4 linked regions of the Homo sapiens genome follow. The protein of the gene in region 2 interacts with the protein of the main gene of each other region in a pairwise test. Each region holds a gene or a part of one and is shown on either strand. Other genes may lie near its edges. The genes, in order: USP25, ZNF426, KRT3 and LONRF1.

The links.
Region 1: the proteins of ZNF426 (region 2) and USP25 interact in binary tests that used the Homo sapiens proteins (3 or more experiments, as listed by UniProt).
Region 3: the proteins of ZNF426 (region 2) and KRT3 interact in binary tests that used the Homo sapiens proteins (3 or more experiments, as listed by UniProt).
Region 4: the proteins of ZNF426 (region 2) and LONRF1 interact in binary tests that used the Homo sapiens proteins (3 or more experiments, as listed by UniProt).

What each region holds. Positions count from the first base shown.
Region 1 is NC_000021.9:15,823,319-15,831,156, forward strand, and holds part of USP25 (ubiquitin carboxyl-terminal hydrolase 25), read left to right. Parts: intron 1-720; coding exon 721-848; intron 849-1,647; coding exon 1,648-1,743; intron 1,744-2,885; coding exon 2,886-3,047; intron 3,048-3,658; coding exon 3,659-3,885; intron 3,886-5,022; coding exon of another isoform or gene 5,023-5,033; exon of another isoform or gene 5,034-5,367; intron 5,368-7,212; coding exon 7,213-7,283; intron 7,284-7,838. UniProt on the Homo sapiens protein: Deubiquitinating enzyme that hydrolyzes ubiquitin moieties conjugated to substrates and thus, functions in various biological processes including inflammation and immune response.
Region 2 is NC_000019.10:9,527,984-9,535,821, forward strand, and holds part of ZNF426 (zinc finger protein 426), read right to left. Parts: intron 7,297-7,838; coding exon 7,205-7,296; intron 5,984-7,204; coding exon 5,857-5,983; intron 4,943-5,856; coding exon 4,862-4,942; intron 3,085-4,861; coding exon 3,002-3,084; intron 1,654-3,001; coding exon 397-1,653; 3' UTR 1-396. UniProt on the Homo sapiens protein: May be involved in transcriptional regulation.
Region 3 is NC_000012.12:52,788,645-52,793,415, forward strand, and holds the end of KRT3 (keratin, type II cytoskeletal 3), read right to left. Parts: intron 4,580-4,771; coding exon 4,519-4,579; intron 4,163-4,518; coding exon 4,067-4,162; intron 3,760-4,066; coding exon 3,595-3,759; intron 3,173-3,594; coding exon 3,047-3,172; intron 2,783-3,046; coding exon 2,562-2,782; intron 2,229-2,561; coding exon 2,194-2,228; intron 1,715-2,193; coding exon 1,398-1,714; 3' UTR 1,041-1,397; downstream 1-1,040.
Region 4 is NC_000008.11:12,720,805-12,724,763, reverse strand, and holds the end of LONRF1 (LON peptidase N-terminal domain and RING finger protein 1), read left to right. Parts: intron 1-1,509; coding exon 1,510-1,668; 3' UTR 1,669-2,858; downstream 2,859-3,959.

The sequences.
Region 1 (7,838 bases), on a different chromosome or scaffold from region 2:
CTTAATTGAACAGTTACCAAAGCATGTATGGGGATTAGGGGCTGGGGGTAGGGGAAGGAAATTACGGCTATACTCATTATCAGAATTTGGCTCATAGCAATGAGACATTCAATTCTTTAAACACTAGTTATTTTAAAAGATTTTAAGTAAATTACTCTAAGTATTAACTTTTTGTTAGTGATATGTCTTTTTCATAAATTAGTATGAAATCCAGCAGAGGAGCTAAAGCTAAAACAGGAAAACACCATTTTTTCATTTTTAGTATGAGAGTTGTGACGATTTATGATATAAATTTTTTTTTGAGTACTCCCTCTCATAAGTTATTTTATCACAGGATTTTGATGCTTTGGTTAAGTATAAGTGCCATTCAACATCACGTTGAAGAAGACAGAGAAGACTTGAGCTACTAAGTCATGGTTTTAACCAGTGTCTTTTTCTTTGGGCTAGAAATTCTAATGTAAAGAATTATTTTCGAAGGATAGTTGTGAGATTTCTTTTTTTCCTGATCATATATTATACCCACTCTTGGAATTTTCAAGAGGTGTGGAAAACTTTTAGAAAGAGGTTGAGTTTTAACTAAACTGTGTACCCAGTTACTTGTCAGGTCCGCATTGTGGTGATACATATAACAATGTCAGTGCCCACATCCTGTGCCTAAGATTGCAGTGAAGAAAACAAAGGTGGTATTAAAGTTTTTGTTATTGTTTTATTTCCTTTCAGCATTGGTTTACTGAATTACCACCTGTGTTAACATTTGAATTGTCAAGATTTGAATTTAATCAGGCATTGGGAAGACCAGAAAAAATTCACAACAAATTAGAATTTCCCCAAGTTTTATATTTGGACAGGTATGGTTTGATATACTGCATGACTTAGTTTGAAACAGTTTAGTAAGGGAGAAAATATTGTTTAGAGGAAAATTCTGCATAATTTTCTTAGAATTAATTTCTACTTTTGCATAATATACCTAATACCATTTGTCAAGGTAGATGAAATTTACTTTGTATTAGAAAAGTATAGTTTTTGGGAATAATGTTATAAGGAAATTTAAAAAAGATGAATTTTGTAATCTTAAAATTCAGAATTTTAAAAAATACCATTTTGTATTATCTACCTTACATCTTATACAATTTTGAATGAATTGATGCTTTGTGGTGATGTCTGTACTTAATATTGTATCTATCTATCTTTCTGTCTTTCTTTCTGTCTCTCTGTCTTCCTGTCTTTCTGTCTTCCTGTTTTCCTGTCTTTCTTTCTTTTGTTTTTTTCTGTCTGTCTTTCTGTCTATCTTTCTGTCTTTCCTTCTTTTTTGTTTTGAGACAGAGTCTTGCTCTGTCGCCCAGGCTGGAGTGCAGTGGTGCGATCTTGGCTCACTGCAAACACCATCTCCTGGGTTCAAATGATTCTCCTGTCTCAGCTTCCCGAGTAGCTGGGATTACAGACACCCACCATCGTGGCTGGCTAATTTTTGTATTTTAGTAGAGACGAGATTTCACCATGTTGGCCAGGCTGGTCTTGAACTCCTGACCTCAGGTGATCCTCCCGCCTTGGCGTCCCAGAGTGGTAGGCCGGGTACGCTGGCATCTGGCCATATTGCATCTACTTTCATGATATTCGGAAATGCTAATGATTACCTTTTTCTGATAGATACATGCACAGAAACAGAGAAATAACAAGAATTAAGAGGGAAGAGATCAAGAGACTGAAAGATTACCTCACGGTATTACAACAAAGGCTAGAAAGGTATTTTAACTTTTATGAAATTAGGAGATAATTATCAGAAACCATGTATTTGGTGACTAGATTTTTAATTTCAAATTTGCTTTGAGTGATTTATAATTTTAGGAGTAGTTAATATTGTGTGAATAGTTTTGAGTTTTGCTTGAAACTAAAAATCTATAGTAGACTTTAAAAAATTATTCTAGTGTTTAAAATTAAATATCTCATTGTCAACAGGTAATGTTCCTACTGCTGAAAATAGATACAAAGTTAAATGAATATAGTTTTGACCTTCCTTTTTGCATGAAACTAAAGATTACTCTTGAGATTTTCATTAAAATGAATGGTATCTGAGTTTTTCTCCTTAAAACAGGATACAAACTCAGCTGCCTACCAAGTCTTCTCAGCAGCTTCGTAAAGGAGGAAATTGTGTCAGGTGTAAGATGGTATGTGCCGGGAGCCTAGAGAGCAATCTGTGTGTACAGGGAATGAATGCCATTCCATACCAGTGGATGGTACCATGTATGAGTATGGCCTCACTGTTGTCTATTGATTTGGATCATTTCTAAAAGACGTCAGAATCTGGACTGAGAAATGTTCTACAGGCCAGACAGAAATCTAAAGGCTGAAATGTCACAAGTCATTTCAGTTTGCAAACCCCAATCTGCTCTGCATTCCCCTATTTTAGGAATTTTCAAATTAGTAGTCTAAAACTTCTTACATCAAATAGTATATTGTATTTTAATGATTTTTATTCTTAAAAAGTATGAATAATCATATTGAAACATGATTAGTGGTAAAAGATAGGAGGATAGTACACATCACTGTCTTGATCATGAGACCAGATGCCAGATCTAAAAATAAAAACAGTCTCAGGAGATGTCAGTTTTCATCTTCCTATTGAGTTACAATTTAGAACAGCATTTACAGATTATAACAGTATATACTCACATTCAGTCCCAATCGGCCTTGGTTTCCTGTCTTTGGGGAACTTTTAATGTTTTTCTTAAGTGTATATTCAGTTTTACCATCTTCGTTTTAAAGCAAATGAATTTTATTGCTGAGGAAGTTTTATTGAAGTATCGTATCACGTTTTATAATAATAATAAAGGCCCAAATATGCTGTATATAGAAATAAAAGCATTTGTACATTTTATGATTAACAGATATTTAAGCTATGGTTCCGGTCCCAAACGATTCCCCTTGGTAGATGTTCTTCAGTATGCATTGGAATTTGCCTCAAGTAAACCTGTTTGCACTTCTCCTGTTGACGATATTGACGCTAGTTCCCCACCTAGTGGTTCCATACCATCACAGACATTACCAAGGTAAAAAGTAATCCTGATGCAAGAGACAGTTGTTACCTTTATTACACAATAATGTAACTGCTGCCTTTAAAGACAGTTTCTATAAAATGTATGCTTTGATTTACTTCAGTGAACTCCTAAGAGTAGATTCACTTAGAAGACTGTATGTCCTCTGGGAGTTTTTTTATTATTTCAGTAGATTTTATGGTTATGGATTAAAATTTTAATCACATTTTTTTTCAGTTCAGAATTATACTTTAGCATGTTTTGGTATGTACATATATAAGATTCAGCATTTTATGATCCATAAAAATAGTACTATCAAATTAGAATTTGTTTCTGTAATGTAAGCTGATAAGCCAGGGAAAATAATATCACCATGCGTAAGATTTTCTTGTTTTTTAGAAATAAATATGATTAAGCTGTTTTAACTCTAAAGCTACAACTTCATCTTATAATAATTTAGTTCTTATGTATTAAAAATCTCATTTGGATGTTAGATCAATCCACATATTTCTTTAAGATTTTTTCTTTTGAATTACAAGCCAATTTAATACTGTGGGTTTGGCACGATCTTTGTCAAGAGTTTCAGCTTGAAAGGTTAATAAGAAATACTCTATGCTTTGATACAGCACAACAGAACAACAGGGAGCCCTATCTTCAGAACTGCCAAGCACATCACCTTCATCAGTTGCTGCCATTTCATCGAGATCAGTAATACACAAACCATTTACTCAGTCCCGGATACCTCCAGATTTGCCCATGCATCCGGCACCAAGGCACATAACGGAGGAAGAACTTTCTGTGCTGGAAAGTTGTTTACATCGCTGGAGGACAGAAATAGAAAATGACACCAGAGGTAAGAAGTGTCTCATAGCATGGTTACTGTCACCTCAGATGGATATGTGTAATGTTAATATTGAGAAGGGAAATCACGTCTGGATTTTATATTTAAATATTATAGTCATTTTTCTTTTCCAGAAAGGGTTTTAAGATAAACTAGTTTGGCTCCCCATTTTTATAATCTCAATATCAGGTTCACAGGGACCAAAAGATTTTCCCTGGATTGCTTAGCTGATTAATGACATAGCAGATGGCCTGATTTTCTAGTTTGCTGCTCTAAATTTATATCAAACTGGTATTCACAGTTACTCCATTGGAGAAATGTCATACAATATCAATGTTTGTACATATCAATTAGGTACTAAATCTAAGTTTGCACAGGGAGTTCCGGTGATTAAAAAATTTTCTTTGGGCTTAAGAATTAGAAATGTGAATTTTAATTTTTAATAGCTCTAACAGATTTATGAGTATCTATGATCCCATTACTAGTCTGTAACAGAGTTTTTACTGGCATGCAGCAAAATAAGAAAAATAAGGACAGTGCTCTGGGTGGGGTGTGTGCACTTGTGTGCGTGTGCGTGTGTGTGTGTGTGTGTGTGTGTGTGTGTGTGTGTGTGTCAAGTTGCCATCTGTCCTTTCTTGGAAGGAACTCTCTTTTATTCTTTTCTATTCTATTTTTTCTTTTTTTTCAGAATAAGTTATTCTGAACTTTTCTCTTTCCTACTTTGCTGCTGTTAAAGTGTACTTAAAAAAATGGATTATGGTAGATTTTATTACATTTTTTTCCTTAAATGTGAAAATATAATTCCCTATTATCATTCCCCAATTTTATGCTGATTTATTGATTTTTGAAAAAAATGAACTATGTGACATGGTTGGAATTATATTGAACAATATTGATTGTTGGATATTATATGACCAACTTAACTCTTTATAGACAATATTTGAAAAAGAATGGCCCTAATTTAGTAAGAAGTACATAAGGTATGATGGTGACTAACAGCATTAGTAGCTGTCAAGATTTTCTTTAGTATTTTTCAAATAAGAGGGAATTTTTAAAAATATTTGAACTCATTAACAAACATTAATCAAGCAAATAGTGTTGATGAAGCACTATATTAGGCGTTGGGTAATTTTCTACTCCTCATGGCAGGTTGTTTTTAAAAGATTACATTCAGAGGAGTGGAAGCTAGGAAGCTTTTGACACCTAAGTAGTGGCATTGAGGGAGGGAAGAAGTGAATGTACTTAAAATACTCTTTGGAGACAACTGACAGATGTGGGTCATTGGCTAGAGGTAAGAGAGAGGGACGAATCGAATGATTCTCTCAGTTCATAATGGTATGAATAACCAAATAGAATGTATTTTGGAAAAAAGGTAAAGCAGTGGGCAAAGAGGTTCCCACTCAGGGGAGGAAAGAGAAATATGATGAGTTCTCTTTTGGCCATTTTAAGTTTGAAGAGCTTTTTTGAGACGGAGTCTCGCTCTGTCACCAGGCTGGAGTGCAGTGGCATGAACTCGGGCTCACTCCAGCCTCTGCCTCCCAGGTTCAAGCGATTCTCCTGCCTCAGCCTCCCAAGTAGCTGGGATTACAGTTGTGTGCCACCACACCCAACTAATTTTTGTATTTTTAGTAGAGATGGGGTTTCACCATGTTGGCCAGGGTGGTCTCAATCTCTTGACCTTGTTATCCGCCCACCTCAGCCTCCCAAAGTGCTGGGATTACAGGCGTGAGCCACCATGCCTGGCTGTTAAGATTTTTATATGTAATACTATGGATCAGGAAAGAAGGTTTTCCTCAGGATATTTTTTTTCTTTCTTTCATCCATATTGATGTTAGCAGTTAGCATTATTTTGTAAACTATTGTGTAATATTCCAACACACGGGTATGATGTAATTCATTTAATTCCCATATTGATATTTCCTAAATAGTGCTGGTCTTCGATATACATATTTATACACTTCTGTAAGTAGGATATGTTCTTTTTTATGTTCAGGGGTACATGTGCAGGTTTGCTATAAAGGTAAATTACATGTCTTGGGGGTTTGGTGTAAGATTATTTCATCATGCAGGTAATAAGCACAGTACCTGATAGGTGGTTTTTCCATCCTCACCCTGCTCCCACCCTCCACCCTAATGTAGGCCCCAATATCTGTTGTTTCCTTATGTCCACCATTTCTGGTTCAGAGTGTGTATATTTTAAATTTTGACGACTGTTTTAAAATTGTCACTCCAAAACATTAAACCAGTTTGCATTCCCACTGTGTGAGAGAGCCTGTCTCCCAGTATCCTCCCTAGCCCTGGACACTTTTTAGTAGTTTTTCACAATTGAAAAACTGGTATTTTAGTGTTTTGATTTGCATTCCCTTAGCTTCGAGTGAAGTTGGATATTTATATTGTTCTGTAAATTTCTTGTTTGTGACATTTGCCCATTTTTTAAGTATTGAGCTATTTGTATTTTTCTTATTACTTAATAGAAAGTTTAATGTATTGTGGATATTAACACTTTACCTATAATATCACATATGCTGCAGATATTATTTTCCCAGTTTTTCATTTGATTTTATGTTGGTTTTGTTTTCTTTTTATAATGTAGATTTTTTAAAGTGTTGGGCAGGGAGGATCTTATCTTTTCCTATAAGGTTACTAGTTTTCTGACAGGCTTAAGACAGGTCTTTCCCCACTCTAAAGTTAGCCAGTTTCTTTTATAGTTTTTCAAGGTTTCTTCCTGATTGGTTCAGCAGCTTCACAATATGATGTGGTTACAATCTAACCGTTTCCTTATTGACAGATATTTAGGTTATCTCTTTTTTAAAAATTATTGTGGACAATATGACTGTGAACATCCCTATCTGAACAATTTTGTAGGATTATTTTCTACTAGAAGTAGAAATAATTGTCATGGGAGTGCCATAATTTTATTTTCACTGGTGATTATAGTCGATTTTTATTCAGTTATGTGTGTGTACAAGATATGTGGTGAACATGTTTTACTTTGTTCTTAAGTTTACTTGTGTTATAGCAATATGTAAGGAAGCTTAGCTTTCATTTTCATTGAAACTCTCCTTTATAGATTTGAACAAAATTCACTTTTATTGGCTCTGCACATTTTCTAGATAAATCATATTTGTGTTGTTTTTAAAGTATGCATTTGTACTGTGTCTTTTATTAAGAATAACTATAATTCATTTTCTACAGATTTCAAATGGTAATGTTTTTTAAGAAAAGTTTTAGGAAAATTTTCCTATTCCTCTAACATGTTTGTAGGAAAAACATTAGTCCTTATCTTATAAGTAGAAACACATTTGCTGTTAATCATTAAATGACACCTTATATCCTTAGATTTGCAGGAAAGCATATCCAGAATCCATCGAACAATTGAATTAATGTACTCTGACAAATCTATGATACAAGTAAGTGAAATTTTGAGCTAGTAATCATTGTCAAAATTATTTACATATATTTTAATTTACCTTTACATTATCTTAATCTAATTTTTCTTTACATGTTTTGTTTTAAAATTTTGGCAAATCTTATTGTAAAATAATAAGGGCTTGCAATATGTACAATGTGACAGTTCATCTGAATGGGGAAACTTTTATAACAAATTTATAACAAAATTCATGACAAGTTTTCCCCATTCAGTTGTATTTTCACACCGTATGTGTTGTGTACCCTTACTATTTTACAGTAAAATCTACCAAAGTTTTTCAAAAGGCTATAGCATCTTTAAAAAGTCTTATGGGAGAAAATCTATGGTTGTTAAAGGATATTAAGATTTGGGAAGAAACTTAAGGACTCCATTACATTTTAACTTCTGGTGTATATCATATAATCTATTTTGTTAACCGTCAATTTAGAATTCTGAAGATGTAGACACATTTGCTATATGTAAAACTGCCCACTATAAGCTTTTTATTCAAATAAACAATTAGGCCAATGAGTATGTACACAATAAATACATTTTT
Region 2 (7,838 bases):
AATTTTCTTTTTTTTTTTTTTTTGAGATGGAGTCTCACTCCATCGCCCAGGCTGGAGTGCAGTGGCATGATCTCTGCTCACTGCAACCTCTGCTTCCTGGGTTCAAGTGATTCACTTGCCTCAGCCTCCCAAGTAGCTGGGATTACAGGTGCCCACCACACCTGGCTAAATTTTTTGTATTTTCAGTAGAGACAAGGTTTCACCATGTTGGCCAGGGTGGTCTCAAACTCCTGACCTCAAGTGATCCACCCACCTCAGCCTCTCAAAATGCTGGGATTACAGGAATTAAGTAATTTTCATGCAGCTTCTTCTCTCCAGAGTGAGTTCATTCATGTCTTTAAAGTGAACTGGAACAAATGAGAGCTTTCCCACATTTATTACATGGACAGTTTCTCACTAGTGAATTTGTTCATGTCTTCGAAGTGAACGGGGATGACTGTAAGCTTTCCCGCATTGCTGACATTTATAGGGTTTCTCTTCTGTGTGAGTTTTTTCATGAATTCTAAAGGAACTGGAACACGTGAAGGCTTTCCCACACTCCTTGCATTCATAGGGTTTCTCTCCAGTGTGAGTCCTTTCATGTATTTGAAATGAACTGGAATGACTGAAGGCCTTTCCACATTGTTTACACTCATAGGGTTTTTCTCCAGTGTGGATTCGCATGTGAATTTTAAGGTGGGTGGAATAGTTAAAAGCCTTCCCACATTCCTTACAGGTGTATGGTTTCTGGGCACTGTGCGTTCGCATGTGATTATTAAGACATGAGGGATACCCAAATACTTTCCCACATATCTTACACTCACAGGCCTTCTCTTCAGTGTGAGTTCTCAAATGTCCACTAAGATTTGAGGAAACTGCAAAGGCTTTCCCACATTCAACACATACAAAAGGCTTCTCTCCAGTGTGAGTTCTTATATGTTGAATAAGGCGTGAGGATGTAAGGAAGGATTTCCCACATTCCTTACATTCATAGGGCTTGTCTCCACTGTGAGATCGTACATGCATACTAAGGCCCGAGTACTGAGTGAAGGCTTTCCCACATTCCTTACATACATAGGGTTTCTCTCCAGTGTGAGTTCTTCCATGTATCTGAAATGAGTTGGAATAATTGAAGGCTTTCCCACATTCCTTACATTCATATGGTTTCTCCCCAGTGTGGGTTCGCATGTGAATACTGAGGTAGGCTGGGTATCTATAGCCTTTTCCACATTCCTTACATTTGTAGGGCTTTTTTGCATTGAGGGTTTCTATAAGCACAGAAAGGCTTGTAGAGTCAATAAAACCTGGCCCATAATTCCTCCATTCGTAGAGTTTTTCTCCATTGTGAGTTCTCATATGTGCCTGAAGGTATGACTCATTAATGAAGGATTTTCCACAGTGACTACATTCAAATGACTTTTCTTGTGTGCTAGTTCTCTGGTATACAATATTTGGTGTCAGGCTGAAGATTTTTTCACTCTGATTAAACTCAGAAAGTTTCTCACCAGTAGAGGTTTTCTCACACAGGGTAAGGAAATCTTTTCCATACTGATTACAGTCATGAGTGTTCCCTGTACTTTGAGTTCTCACGTGCGTCTTAAGGCATGAGTGTTCACTGAAGACTTCTCCACATTGCTCACAGTCACAGAGTTCCCTTCCATTGTGTTTTCCTTCCTGTTGAAGGGATGATGATGATTTAAGGATTTTTCTCAAACATATTAACAGAACATACCCATCTGAAGCTAGAAACATTATAATGGTGATTATAATTGATGCCATTTTTATTACATGCATTCAGGTCCTTCCCTGTAGATTTATTTTAAGTGGTATGACTTAACTCTTATTCTAGAATGTTGTGCCATCTACTTTAATCTTGGCTAGGCATGGTGTCTCATGCCTGTAATCCCAGCACTTTGGGAGTCCGATGGGGGGCAGATCACCTGAGGTCAGGAGTTCAAGACCAGCATGGCCAACATGGTGAAACCCTGTCTCTACTAAAAATACAAAAATTAGCTGGGCTTGGTGGCACATGCCTGTAATCCCAGCTACTTGGGAGGCTGAGACACAAGAATCGCTTGAACCTGGGAGGCGGAGGTTGCAGTGACCCAAGATCACACCACTGCACTCTAGCCTGGGCAACAAAGCGAGACTCCGTCTCAAAATAATAATAATAATAATAATAACAGATTTCTGTAGAATTCAATGTCTAGATGGGTGCAGTAGCTCACATTTGTAATCCCAGCATTTTGGGAGGCAAAGGTGGGTGGATCATTTGAACCCAGGAATTAGAGACCAGCCTGGGCAACATGGCAAAACTCCATCTCTATAAAAAATATCAAAAAATTAGCTGGGCATGGTGGTGTGTTCCTGTAGTCCCAACCACATAGGAGGCTGAGGTGGGAGGATCACTTGAGCCAAGGGGTCAAGGCTTCAGTGAGCCATGTTTGTGCCACTGCAATCCAGCCTGGGTGACACAGCAAGACCTTGTCTCGACCAAAAAAAAAAAATTCATAGTCTAAGCCAGATGTGGTGGCTCATGCCTGTACTCCCAGCACTTTTGTAAACTGAGGCAGAGGATCACTTGAGCACAGGAGTTTGAGACTAGCCTGGGAAACACAGTAAGACCCTGTCTCCACAAAATTTTGAAGAATTAGCTGGGTGTGGTGGTGCATGCCTGTAGTCCCAGCTACCAAGGGAGGCTGAGGTGGGAGGATCGCCTGAGCCCAGGAGGTCAAGACTATACTGAGCCATGATTGCACCACTGCACTCCAGCCTGGGTGACAGAGCAGTATCTCGTTTCAAAAAAACACCAAAACAAAACTCAACGTCTAGTTACACTTGTGGGAATGTGTGAAAGCTCCAAAGAAACAAGTTTCACAATTGGAGCATCCCTAAATTCTTTGCTCCCTCTCATGTGTATGCAACTTCTCTCAAATATCTCTTATTTTTGCTGACTTCCCATAACAGAATTCCTGATTTTCTCTGAGGGTGGAAAATAAAAAATATCCTATGCAAATCTTACCAATTGTATCCCAATGGATGTCTGACCCCTCAAAAAGTCCTGCTGAAGTATAGACCACTGGGTTTCAAGTCGCATTTCCCATCCTGAAATAAAACAGACAAACAAATAAAAGGACTCAAGCTAGGCACAGTGGCTCATGCCTGTAATCCCAGCACTTTGGGAGGCTAAGGCAGGTGGATCACTTGAGGTCAGGAGTTTGAGACCAGCCTGGCCAACATGGCAAAACCCCACCTCTACTAAAAATTCAAAAGCTAGCTGGGTGTGGTGGTGAGCACCTGCAATCCCAGCTACTCACGGGGCTCAGGCTGGAGAATCTCTTGAATCCAGGAGGCAGAGGTTGTAAGGAGCTCAGATCACACCACTGCACTCCAGCCTTGGCAACAAACAGAGTGAACCACAACAAGAACAAATGAAAGGATTTGGAGAAAGAAATGCAAAGAGTTCAAAACAATATGGCTTATTTCTATTTGTTTCAAATTAAACATGGCAAGAAAAAGCAGAAAGACATTTGGGGATTTGGGCTATATCAAAAATTTGGTTTTGATGTAAATGATCCAAAGGGGGAAAAATTGGCCAAGACAAGGACATGGGGTAAAACTTTTCGATCGTTTATTACAAATTGATGCTATGAAAATTAAAACTGATAGTGAATAGAGAGAATCAGGGAATGAAAGTAGGAAATTTCTGAAAAAAGAGCGTATATCTAAACAATTAACTTGGCCGGGCACGGTGGCTCATGCCTTTAATCCCAGCACTTTGGGAGGCCGAGGCAGGCAGATCACGAGGTCAGGATATTGAGATTATCCTGGCTAACACGGTGAAACCCCGTCTCTACTAAAGATATAAAAAAATTAGCCAGGCATGGTGGCAGGCACCTGTAGTCCCAGCTACTTGGGAGGCTGAGGCAGGAGAACGGCATAAACCCGGGAGGTGGAGCTTGCAGTGAGCTGAGATTGCACCATTGCACTCCAGCCTGGGCGACAGAGCAAGACTCCATCTCAAAAAACAAAACAAACAAACAAAAGCCACAATTAACTTAAAGAAATGTTCTAAGACCCCAGGTGGATGCCTGAATCATGGCTAGTTCTGAACCCTGTACATACTATGATTCTTCGATCTGGTAACTGAGATGACCGCTACGTGACTCACAGGTGGTGTACACAGTGTAGATACATTGGACAAAAGGATGATTCACACCCCAGGCAGGATGACATAAGGGTTCATCATACTACTGAGAATGGTGAGAAATTTAAAACTTATGTTTTGTTTATTTCTGGAAATTTTTCTTTTTTTCTTTTTTTTTTTTTTTTTTTTGTGGGGTGGGGGTCAGTGGCCAGGGTCTCACTCTATCACCCAGGCTGGAGTACAGTGGTGCAATCACATCTCACCACAGCCTTGACCTCCTAGTCTCAATCCATCCTCACAGCTCAGTCTCCTGAGTTACTGGGACAGCAGGTGCGTCCCACCACCCTCGGCTAATTTTTGTATTTTTTGTAGAAACAAGGTTCTCGGTATGTTGCCCAGGCTGGTCTTGAACTCCTGGGCTCAATGATTCACCCACCTAGGCCTCCCAATGTGTGGGGATTACAGGTGTGGGCCACCATGCCTGGCCGAGTTTCCCATTTAATATTTTTGGACCATGGTTGAATGCAGATAACTGAAACCGTGAAAAGTGAAATCACAGACAAGGGGGGACTGCTCTGTAAATAAAAGCGTGTGGGAAGTTAAATATTTCCTAACTTTCTCTAAACCTTGGGGTTTAGAGTGCAGGGAGAAAGTACATGTTAAAAAGTTTCCTAATTATGCTTTCAAACATACTGAACTTCTCATCAACCAGAGTTGTTCTTCATGAACACTCACCTTGGAGAACTCCTCCCTGAACTGTCCTTGACTCTTCTTGTTCCAACCAAGAGATTAGACTGGGTTTGATGATCTGACCTCCTGAGCACAGAGAAATACATTAATGGAAGAGGCTCATAAAAAAGATTACAAACCTTTCTGTGATTCAGGAACTACAGATCTAATGAAAGTGGTGAAGCTATTTCAAAAGGGCGAAAAATGCAAATAACAACTCTGACTGTGCCCCAAACAGTCTGGTTACTTCTGTCCCCTAAACCGAAATTCAGGCTTATGTACACATTTAAAAAGCACTGAGACTTTTATTCAAACACAAAATAATGGCCGAGTGTGGTGGCTCATGCCTGTAATCCCAGCACTTTGGGAGGCTGAGGCAGGTGGATCACTTGAGGTCAGGAGTTCGAGACCAGCCTGGCCAACATGGTGAAACCCCATCTCTTCTAAAAATACAAAAAAAAAAAAAAAATAGCTGGGTGTGGTGGCGCATGCCAGTAATCCCAGCTATTCGGGAGGCTGAGGCCCAAGAATCGCTTGAACCCAGGAGGCAGAGATTGCAGTGAGCTGAGATCATGCCAGTGCACTCCAGCCTGCGTGACAGAGTGAAACTGTCTCAAAACAAGAACAACAACAAATAAGGAATAAGGAAGTATAACAGAGATCTTCATTCTTCTGGGGAAACAACTACCCCAGTGTTTTTTAAAACATTATTGTGCATCAGAGTCATCCAGAGAACTTGTTCAAACACAGATTATTGGGCTTCAACTCCAGGTTTCTGGGTGGAGAAGGAAAATGTACATTTCTAACAGGCAGATGGTGTTGCTATTAATCTTGGACCACATTTTCAGAATGGTCACAGTAGATTAAAATCTATTTAGGACAGGGACTATGTCTCTGTTATTTCTCTTTGCATTCAGAGTTGACATTGCCAATGCTGCAAAACAGTAAGTACAAAACATATCAGTTCCATAGAAGGCTGCAAGGGATGAGGCCAGTCTTACCTACTGTGGCCAGGTTCTTGTAGTTCTCCAGCATCACGTCACTGTAGAGGCTTCTCTGAGTTGAGTCCAGTAAAGTCCACTCCTCCTGGGTGAAGTCCACAGCCACATCGTCAAAGGTCACTGAATCCTAAAGCATCACACACATGCTGGTTGGAGCCAAGTAACAAGCCCATCAGCGTTCGCTGGAGGATGAGGAAGGGGGACCCAATGCCTATGCAGGATTCCAAGGGCTGCAGTGACCAGCCCCAGGTTTTAAGGGTCCTAGAAACTCCTCGCACCCTAAACATACTCACTGTCATCTCCTCCACTCATAGTGCATTAATGGCACTTCTTGAATATGAATTTATCTCAGCACAACCAGACTAGGAGATCTCTTTTTTTTTTGAAATGGACTCTTACTCTGTTGCCCAGGCTGGAGTGCACTGGTGCAATCTTGGCTCACTGCAACCTCCACCTCCCAGGTTCAAGCAACTCTCCTGCTTCAGCCTCCTGAGTAGCTGAAATTACAGGCACACGCCACCATGCCCGGCTAATTTTTTGTATTTTTAGTAGAGATAGGGTTTCAGCATACTGGCTAGGTTGGTCTCGAACTCCTGACCTCATGATCCGCCCCCTTCAGCCTCCCAAAGTGCTGGGATTACAGGCATGAGCCACTGTGCCCGCCCAAGATCTCATCTTATTTCCATCTATTTGAGCGCATTGCTCAGCACATTCCAGACATCTGATCAATGCTGATAAACAACTTAAAGGACACTTTTTTTTTTAATTTTTTTGAGACGGAGTCTTGCTGTGTTGCCCAGGCTAGAGTGCAGTGGTGCAATCACAGCTCACTGCAGCCTCAACCTCCAGGGCTGAAGTGATCCTCCCACTTCAGCCTCCAAAGTAGCTGGGAGTCCAGTCATGTACCACTTTGCCCAGCTAATTTTTAAATTTTTTGTAGAGACGGGGTCTCACTATGTTGCTCAGGCTGATCTTGAACTCCTGTACTCAAGCAATCTGCCTGCCTCAGCCTCCTAAAGTGCTGGGATTATGGGTGTAAGCCACCATGCCCGGCCTGGGATGATTTCCAAGTTAGCACCTCCCTATATGGGTGGCCCCAACCCTTGGGGAAATTCAAATGGGGATTCAGTCCTTGAGTGACACTTTATTTGCTTTAAGAAGCCTGGAGACCGGAGCTTGCAGTGAGCCGAGAGCATAGCACTGCACTCCAGCCTGGCAACACAGCGAGACTCCCTCTCAAAAAAAAAAAAAAAAAAAGAAGTCTGGAGACAACTCTGCCTAGAGGGAAATGTGTCTACCTGGTGGATGCAAGTATGTCACTATGTATAAGAATACAGCTGCTTTTTACCTGATAACAATCTGTTAGGCAGTCAGCCACTATTCTTCCTGCTGGTGTCTTTTCTTCATGAAGGCAAACTGGGTCCCCAGAAAGATAATGTCCTGTAAGAAAATGAAGGCAAGAGAACCCCGAGCTGACCATAATCCCCACATCCACCTACCTAGAGGTCATTACCTCCTAGTATGAAATTCCCATATATTCCTGCAAAATCAGGAAAACACACATAAGGCCAGTTGCAGTGGCTCACATCTGTAATCCTAGTGCTCTGGGAGGTTGAGGTGGAAGGATTACTTTAGGCGAGAAGTTTGAGATCAGCCTGGGCAACACGGTGAGACCCCGTCTCTACAAAAAAATTTTAAAATGAGCCTGGTGTGGTAACACACACCTGTAGTCCCATCTCCTTGGGGAAGCTGAGGCAAGAAGATTGCTTAAGCCTAGGAGTTCGAGACTACCCTGGACAACACAGTGAACATAAACTCCCCATCTCTACAAAAAAATTTTTTTAATCAGCCAGGCATGGTGGCATGTGCCTGCAGTCCCAGGTACTTGGGAGGCAGAGGTGGGAGGATTGCTTGAGCCCAACAGTTTGAGGCTGCAGTGAGCTATGAATGCACCACTGCACTCCAGCCTGGACAAAAGAGCG
Region 3 (4,771 bases), on a different chromosome or scaffold from region 2:
ACATTTCTATTCCACAGCCTGTGTGTTCTCTCCGGGTGCCCCGGCAGTGTGACATGCCTGGAAGGCATCCTCGAAGACAGTGTGGGGAAGTGGAGGGAGCTCCGGACTTGGGATGCAGGGCTTCATTCCTAGCTCAGGCATTCACATGCTATAAGACCCTGGAGGAGTCACCCCTCCTCTCTGAGCCTCAATCTTTTCATTTGGAAGCAAAGGCCTTGGACTCCTTGCTTCTGAGTCCTTTCCAGCAGTCACCTTCTGGACAGCACTCCCATGGCCAACTAACACATTATCAGAGCTTCTTGGTGCAGGGCAGAAGCCAGGATGACAAGAACTCTCATGGCTGGTGCACCTATTTTCAGGCCCCAAGTGCATGCACAGTGCTAGGTGCAGGAATGGGGGCCTCTGCAGGAAATGTTGGATTCAAGGAAGCTAACAGGTTTTCCTTGCTACTGAACTTCTTAGAAACTCTAATATGTGCTCCAAAAAGAAAAGATGTAATGGGCGTGGAGTCTTTTATTGCAGAGTGTCTCAATGGAATGGTGTTCCTGGGTCAGACTTTGACATAGGCTGCTCTGGGGCCTATTTCCATCCCTGGGCTTCCAGCAGCCCGCACTTTCCCGGAGCACCTTGATGGGGGAAAAGCTTTCACGATGTCAGCTGGAGTGAGAATCAACACCAAGGGAAGAAACCCTCTGTCCCCAAGGCCCTCTTAGTTCCCCCACATGAGAGAAGACAGGGAGGAGACAGATGTCTGCATGGGCCAGCCTTCACCACTAAGGACGGTAAGGGTACACAGGGTACAACAGCGTCGGGGAGCAGGACCTCTCCCTCCCCACGGTGCTCACAGAATAATGAACAACCGGATCCGCACCATGGACTGAGAAGACGAACTGCCTTTGTTTCAGAGGAAGAGTTCTCCAGCTGCTCTGTGGATCACAGAGCCCACATGGGAGAGGCAGAGGCAGGGAGGCCAGGGAGGTGACCAGGGAGCTCAGTGCCCTAAGGAGAAGGACATGGAGCGAATACTCAGAGGCCCGGAGTGAAACACAGTGCACTTTATTGGCGACAGACCGGAGGGGCGGAGGGGGCTGTGTGCTATATACATCAGAGCTGTAGTGAGCATCCCACCCAGGGAGGGGACTCCGGGGCAGCAGAAGGTGGCGGCCTAGGCCACACCTGGACAATCACAGGCACAGGCTGGAGCCGGAGAGAAGAGCCTGAAATTCTCGTGACTGGGCTTGGCCGGGGATCTGGAAGGAGGAGCAAGAGGCCACAAGCCTTCCAGCGCAGAGCCGCGTTCTTGGGGAGCATGGGGTGGCGCTGGGGGTGTTGCCAATATGGGGGCGTGGGGAGCGGAGGGGAGGCGCTGGAGTGGCTGCGATGCTGATGCGTGCTCTTTATCTGGAGTAGCGCTGGGAGGACTGGGAGGACTGGGAGAACTTGATGCTGCCGCCCCGGTTGCTGGCCGAGCTGAAGCCCCCGCCACTGACTCCATAGCGGGCGCCAGAGATGGAGCCAAAGCCGCTGCCACCGCTGAAACCGCTGCTGCCGCCGCCAAATCCACCGCCGATTCCACCGCCGCCTCCCCGGCCAAAGCCACTGCCTGAGCCGCCGCCCGCACTGAAGCCACCTCCTAAACCACCGCCCATGCCTCCGCCGTAACCTCCTCCATAGCCACCTGCGGAGGCGGAAGTCGTGCTGCTGCTGACCACGGCTGTGGGGGAGAGGACAGGACAGCGATCAGCGACGGCGCCCAGGCCAGCTGCTATGTTATTGTCAATGATCCACCGGGCCCACGACTATCCAGAGCTGATCAAGGCAGCTTTGCACAGGATGTTCACCACGAGCCGTTCCAAGGCCACTAGCTACTCACTCCCCTGCCGTTAAGCCATTATGAATTAGCCAGTGGTTCCTCCCACAGTACAGTCTTGATGACCCCCTTGGAGGGGATCTAGCGTCTGAATTTATCCTCCTATCAAGAGGCCCCCTGTTGGATATTCCACATTGGCCGTCGAAGCCTATTAAAAGTGCCCTGAACCCAGAACAATTACAAAAGCCAATCACTTCCCTCTCCTCTCCCAGAAAACCCCTCCAACTTCCGTAAAAATATGTTTAAATTAGTTGCTACTACCCTGGATTAGTGCAGATATTTCAGAATTAACTCTCATTTTCTTAGCTACTTTCGGTACTTACAGATGCTGACAGCACTCGGACACTCTCCAGACATCCTGTTTGAGAAAGCAAGAGAAAGTGGGCCCCGTCACAAAGCACATCACCAACAAGTCCACGGACCAAGGGCATGAATAGCAACCAGAGCTGAACAGAGAAGCCTGGCAAATCAGGTAAGCTTTCTCCACCCCTCTTTGGGCTGTAGCAAGGAGAGCCTGTGGGCACTGGTTGCATACGTGCCCTGGGAGGGAGTGGGCTGGTAGAGGCAAATGCTTCACCACAAGGCCTCTCTTTATACAGCAGGGCTCCATCCCCAGTTACTTGGTCACTTATCTGGCCCTTGGCCTATGACTTGAGCCAGGGGGTGTGGGAAGACGGGACTGGAGGCTCACCTGTACTCCTCGCCCTCCAGCAGCTTGCGGTAGGTGGCGATCTCCACGTCCAGGGCCAGCTTGACATTCATCAGCTCCTGGTAGTCACGTAGCAGCCGCGCCAGGTCATCCTTCGCCTGCTGTAGAGCAGCCTGCAGCTCTTGGAGCTTGGCATTGGCATCCTTGAGGGCCATCTCTCCATGCTGCTCGGCCTCGGCAATGGCCGTCTGCAGGTTGGCATTCTGGGGCAAGGGAGGTAGGAGGAATGAGCTCAGTAAGAGGGCCCCAGGCCCTTCCTGACATGCAATGGATTATCCCATCTTAAAGTCAGGGAACATTCCTCCTCCCCTAGTGCCTCCATCTTGTCTCCATTTGTGGAGATACTGCCCTGTGGGTCAGCCAGCCTGAGATGACCTCCAGACGTCTATTCCAGGGGAGGAGTCCTGAGATCCTAGCCCCTGCCCCTCAGCAATCATCCCAGGTGCCAGCATCCATGACCATCCCACCTGCTTCTTGACACCCTCGATCTCTGCCCGCAGCCTCTGGATCATTCTGTTGAGCTCTATGATCTCGCTCTTGGTATTTCTTAGGTCATCCCCATGCCTGCCAGCCGTGGTCTGCAGCTCCCCCAACTGCAGAACAGAAGGGAAGATGGGGTATTCCTGCAGCTTTGCTTGACTTGTTTCTACACCTCCAACATCACCCACCAAACCTTCAGAAGCTCAGTAAGGCATTTGCTAAAATGATACTGCATTGTGTTTCAGCAGGGAAACCCCCAAGGCAGCAGGAAAGAGAACATCTGGGTTGTTGTGGTAGAAGATTTTCCTACCCTGTAGTTCCTGAGCAAGTTGGAGTCAGTCCCACATAGCAGGCAACCATCTCCCCCAGGGGCAAGACTTTCTGCAACTGAACCACCATTAGAAGGATGACTTCAGAGGGTAAAACCAAAAGGCATTCACCCAGTGACCACTGGGAACTCACTACCCAGCTGTCCAATAGGCCATGGCCTCTCTGAAACCTCCAGTGGATCCCGTAAGAGGTGACTAGCACCCACCTTGGTCTGGTACAGGGCCTCAGCTTCGGCCTTGCTTCTCTGAGCGATATCCTCATACTGTGCACGAACTTCAGCAATGATGCTGTCCAGGTCCAGGGAGCGATTATTGTCCATGGACAGCACCACAGATGTGTCACTGATGTGGCTCTGCATCTGAGATAGCTCCTGTCAACACAGAGGGAGCTTGTTCACTTTTGGGGTCCCTGTAACAAGCACACAGGGCCCTGAAAGACTCTTGATCAACAGTCTCATTCACTGATTCCTTGCTCCACATGTGTATCAGCCACACCCTGTCCGCAGCCACTCAGAGAACCCCATGTCTGCAGCTTATCCTGTGGAATCCCTTCCAAGGGTCCTCATCTCCAGGCTCATTCCAGATGTCTTCTGGGGCCTATATACCAAAATGCACCAGCCTCAAATCTGGAAACACCTCACTCTCCCTCTGTCCCTTCTTAGTAGGTAACATCCTTACAGCGTCGTAGAGGGTCCTTAAGAAGTCGATCTCATCTATCAAGGCATCCACTTTGGCCTGAAGCTCCACCTTGTTCATATAGGCACTGTCCACATCCTGAGAAAAGAGGAAGATAAAGGCCTTATTCTCCCAATGAACAAACAGCAAACCACAACTGCAGCAAGAAAGAGCAGAGGGGACTGGTGCAGTGATGGTCCTTGTCTAAGACCAGTCTCCACTTGAACGGGCAATTTGTATCTCATTAGGATGGTCTAAGTTTAATCCTACTAAAAAACTAAAGACTGATGAACTAACTCTTTTAGGGATCTTCCAGACTAAGGTGCACCTGACTTCTGTTTATTGCTCCAAAGGCCTGAACTTGGCAGCTCTGTGGCAGTGGAGTGAGGAGATTCCCCCAACCCAGCCAGAAACCTGCAGCTGCAAGCCTCAGAAACCTCACACACAGCCCTTACCTTCTTCAGAGTCACAAATTCATTCTCAGCAGCTGTACGTTTATTGATTTCATCCTCATATCTGTGTGAATAAAAAAGAAACAGCTGAGTTTGGTTTTGAGGTCATCGTAAACACCATTGTTCCCTGGAACTCTGAAAGTTCATCTCTTCCCTCCCTCCATCCCTATCCTGCCCCTCTCAGATGAGCACATCCTCTTTACTATCTCCCTGTTAGTTGGGGGACCAACCAAGTCAATTTGCCCAGGCAAACTGT
Region 4 (3,959 bases), on a different chromosome or scaffold from region 2:
GATTAAACATCACAGAAATGGGCTTTGATAAGAACAATATTGAATAAGAAATTTTAAATAACAAAACAGCTTATAGAAAAATTCAGCATAACTTTTCCATCACCTTCACCACCCTTGCCTTTTATTATCCTGTCCTGTATCACTGCTTTCTGTTAGCAGTGTTGTGTGAGTTAGGATTTGGGCAGGAAAGCAAAAGCAACCACCCGTCATTTTCCCAGAATGAAGGGTTTGACGTAGGATGTAGACTTTGTATAGTAGTTGGGAGAGCTGTGGGAGTGAAGGTCAGGGATGTCACCTACAGAAGTCAGGGAATCTGCCACCAGAGATCCTGCATCAGAAACAGCCAACAGCGTGCTTCTGAAGAACTAGTGGGGAAGTGGCTATAATTCTTAGGAATCCCAGCAAGTCTGCACCACTGTCTCAGTCTACAGCAGTGGAGAAAGGGGTTTCCAGGAGCTCTCTGGAAAGTTCCTGCCCACACTTTGCAACAATCTTCAGAGGATAATGGCTTCTCTTCCAGCTTCCACACCCAACAAGAGTGCCTTTCATCGGCCAACTCTAACCTGGAACCCTATGGCAGAGGGGATTTTAGAAGACAGTTTGTAATGTCTGTGGAATGCAGATGAAGAGGTAGCAATGCTTAGTTGACAGCGGACAATACACAAATATAGAAACCGAATCTGATTCTAGAGGGGCCTACTGAGATCAGCACTGATGTCGTAGCTCCTTTTGTCATTCTGAAGCTTTATATTTTAAGTCCGATAAATAGCAATTTAAGGTTCAGTGAAGGTGGCTTACAAGTCCTTTTATGGAAATTTCTAGTTGTTTCAATAGCCAATAGTCAGCCCTCACAGCATTACCAGGACCTTTTCACTGGAGATATGTTTCTTTTTTGAACAACATTGGAAGCTGGGGCCTTTTTCTTCTGTCTTTCCAAGGGTTCCATAATACTTTGAGGAAATTTTAAATCTCAATTAACATTTCTTAATGCTTTAAATCTATAGCTCAAGAAAGTGGCTGTCAACTAGGGGCATGTTGCCCCCACAGGATATTTGGCATTACCTGGAGACATTTTTGGCTGTCACAGCTGGATGGGAAGGTGCTACTGGCATCTGGTGGATAGAGATCAGAGGTGCTGCTGAATGTGCTCTAGTGCATAGGACAGCCACATGCAACAAAGAATTATCTGGCTCAAAGTGTCAGTAGCCTGAGGTCGAGAAGCCTTGCTAGTGTAATAGGAGGAAAGAGCGTGTGTTGACTGTGGGGAGTCAGGTCTAGATTTGAATCTCGGCTCTGCCACATAAGAGCCAAGAGATCTTGGACAATTTGCATTACATTGCTGAGCTTCAGTTTCTCCCATTTTATACTTTGCATAATTGTTAAGGACATTGGAGATAGCACCTGGCACATAGTACAAGTGCTCAATAAATAGTAATTTTTTGGTGGTTTGCTACTGTTGTTACATAAATCCTTGTTTTATTAATGCTATAAACTGTCCATTGTTTTTAGGCAGCCCCTAATGGACCTGCATGGTGTTGGTGGCTTCTTGCAGTTCTCCCTGTAGACCCACGATACCAGCTGTCGGTTTTGTCAATGAAGTCTTTGAAAGAACGGTTGACCAAGATACAGCATATACTGACCTATTTTTCTAGAGACCAATCTAAGTAACTAACTCTTTGGATCTCCCTTTAAAGTGACCCTAATCTGGCTGCATTGATGGCCAGATTGTCTGCTGCCTTTGCACATCTAGTGCTGGTTTCAGAAATTTAATGAAACTTTTCTTTTTCCTTCGACCTCCTGAATCATGTGGTTCTGCAAATGAATACCTTCAACTAGGATTTAGACCACTAAGAACTTGCACAGAAAAACACGCATTGAATGTGTGTCGAACCTCTACATTGTGAAGTTGCACTATGTACCATACTCTAAAATGAAATAAGAACTCTTTATGTCTGTGAGAGAGTGTGTGTGTGTGTGTGCGTGCGTGTGTGCTTGTGGGGGTTGGGTAGTGTGTGTGTATTTTCTCTGGCTTTAAAATTTTAAAACAAACAAACAAAAAAGCCATAGAGAGCAGAACTTGCCGAGGGTCATTTATTGCCCAAGTTTACAAGAGTAGCGATACAAGTTTTTGCAAATTGAATTTGCCTCAGATATATCTGTCCTAATGCTTATATTTGCACAAGTATGTAAAATATCGTGTTGAGGATCATTCTTTGTTGGAAACACTGCTCTTGCTGAACTGTCTTGACCATTGACTATGACACAGTTTCTTATTTATGTAAATACTTGCATCACAGTGGCCGACAGGCATTGGATGCAGAACCTAGAGCCAGTTTTCAGGAACAATTGTAAACCTGACATGGTACTGTGCATCTATTCATAAAACACTCAAAACTGTGAAAATATGGTTTACATTTAATTGTACATAAAGGTAAAGGGAGAACTCAATTCAGTACCAGTTAGTTTGTACATTTTAGGGGGCTTTTCACATTAACTGCCCATTTGTGTAATTTATAGTTTGACATGATGTGTTTGTTTTAAAAAAAAATGCATAGTATAAACCCATTAAGGATCTGGGAAAAGAGAAGAAGTTTAATATAGAACTAAGCTTTTAAAGTTTGTTTTTGTTTTTAATTCTGGTCTCGGTGCAAATGTTAGTTATGCCTTATTCATATCACAGTTAGATCACCATGCTGCAACATGGTTTATATTCATGCTGCCCTAGAAACTTTTGTAATTATTTGTTGCAAATTTGTGACTGTCCTTATTAACTTTCTTTTATGTAAGTAATTTGTAAAAGTTTCTTAAAATTTTTGCTTTTGCTTATTTAATTTTGAATAAAAGCTAAATTCCTAATACTTTTTCTTAAATTGTAGGTCAGTGTTATAAAAACAAGTCAGTAGAAGAACCAAACTGCATATGTTAAAGAACAGATGAGTTTTGCTTATGGTTTGGTGGCATTAGATATATGCTATGGTTTCCAAAAACTTTGGCCATTTTTATTTTTTGAGAAAAAAAAAGCAATTTATTGAGGGTTTAGGCCTCGGAACCATCCCTAAAGCACTATTTTTCAACCTTTTAAAAATCCATGTCCCTTTAGGGTAAGGCTAAAATTCTTTCTTTGATGCCTCACCATTTGAGACTTCTCTTGGTTACACAGACTGGACTGTTTCTGCCCCCAGTTCCTCAGCTAGGATTTTGCAAATGTCAGTCAATCATCTTTTTTTTTTTAGAGACAGGATCTTGCTCTATGGCCAAGGCTGGAATGCAGTAGCACAATCATAACTTGCTGCAGCCTCAAACTCCTGGGCTCAAGTGATTTTCCTGTCACAGGATCCTTGGGGTGGCACTTTGCCAGCCAGAAATGTCTGTGGCCGGTGGTGCCTTCTGCCTGAGTAATGCTCATGCCCACTGGGCTTGTTCTGGCCACTCAGCCTGGCAGGCCGTGCTTGGCTTTTGCTACCAGCCCAGATCCCCCACCTGCCAAGAGCGAACCAGGCACGGAGCAGCGAGGGGTGTGTGGGCAAGTGCATGCAGGGTCCAGACACTGCACACAGCCAGGCACACCAGCTGCTGTGTTGGGGTGGGCACCTTCATGCGAGGTTGCAGCTGGACCAGATGCACCACGTGGCTTCCACTGCAGGCACCCACATCTGGACAAGGGGAACACTGTGGCACCCAGAAGCTTGGAGATGCCAGGAACCACAGAGCTCCAAAGAGGGTGTCACAGCCCTGGCTTAGGCACCCTTTAGGTCTGGACTCCCCAAATAGCTGTAGCTCTTCTTGTCACCCACAATGTGGTGAGTTGGGGTGCAAGGGGGGTATGTGTTTCAGCCCTGTTTGTGTTATAGTTCTTTCAGTTTCACCATTTAGCAAGTCCTGAGTTCTTTCCCTGCATCCAGGAAGAATGAGGTGGACAGACAACTGGAAGGTGAGCAAGGCAGAGAGGAGCTTCACTG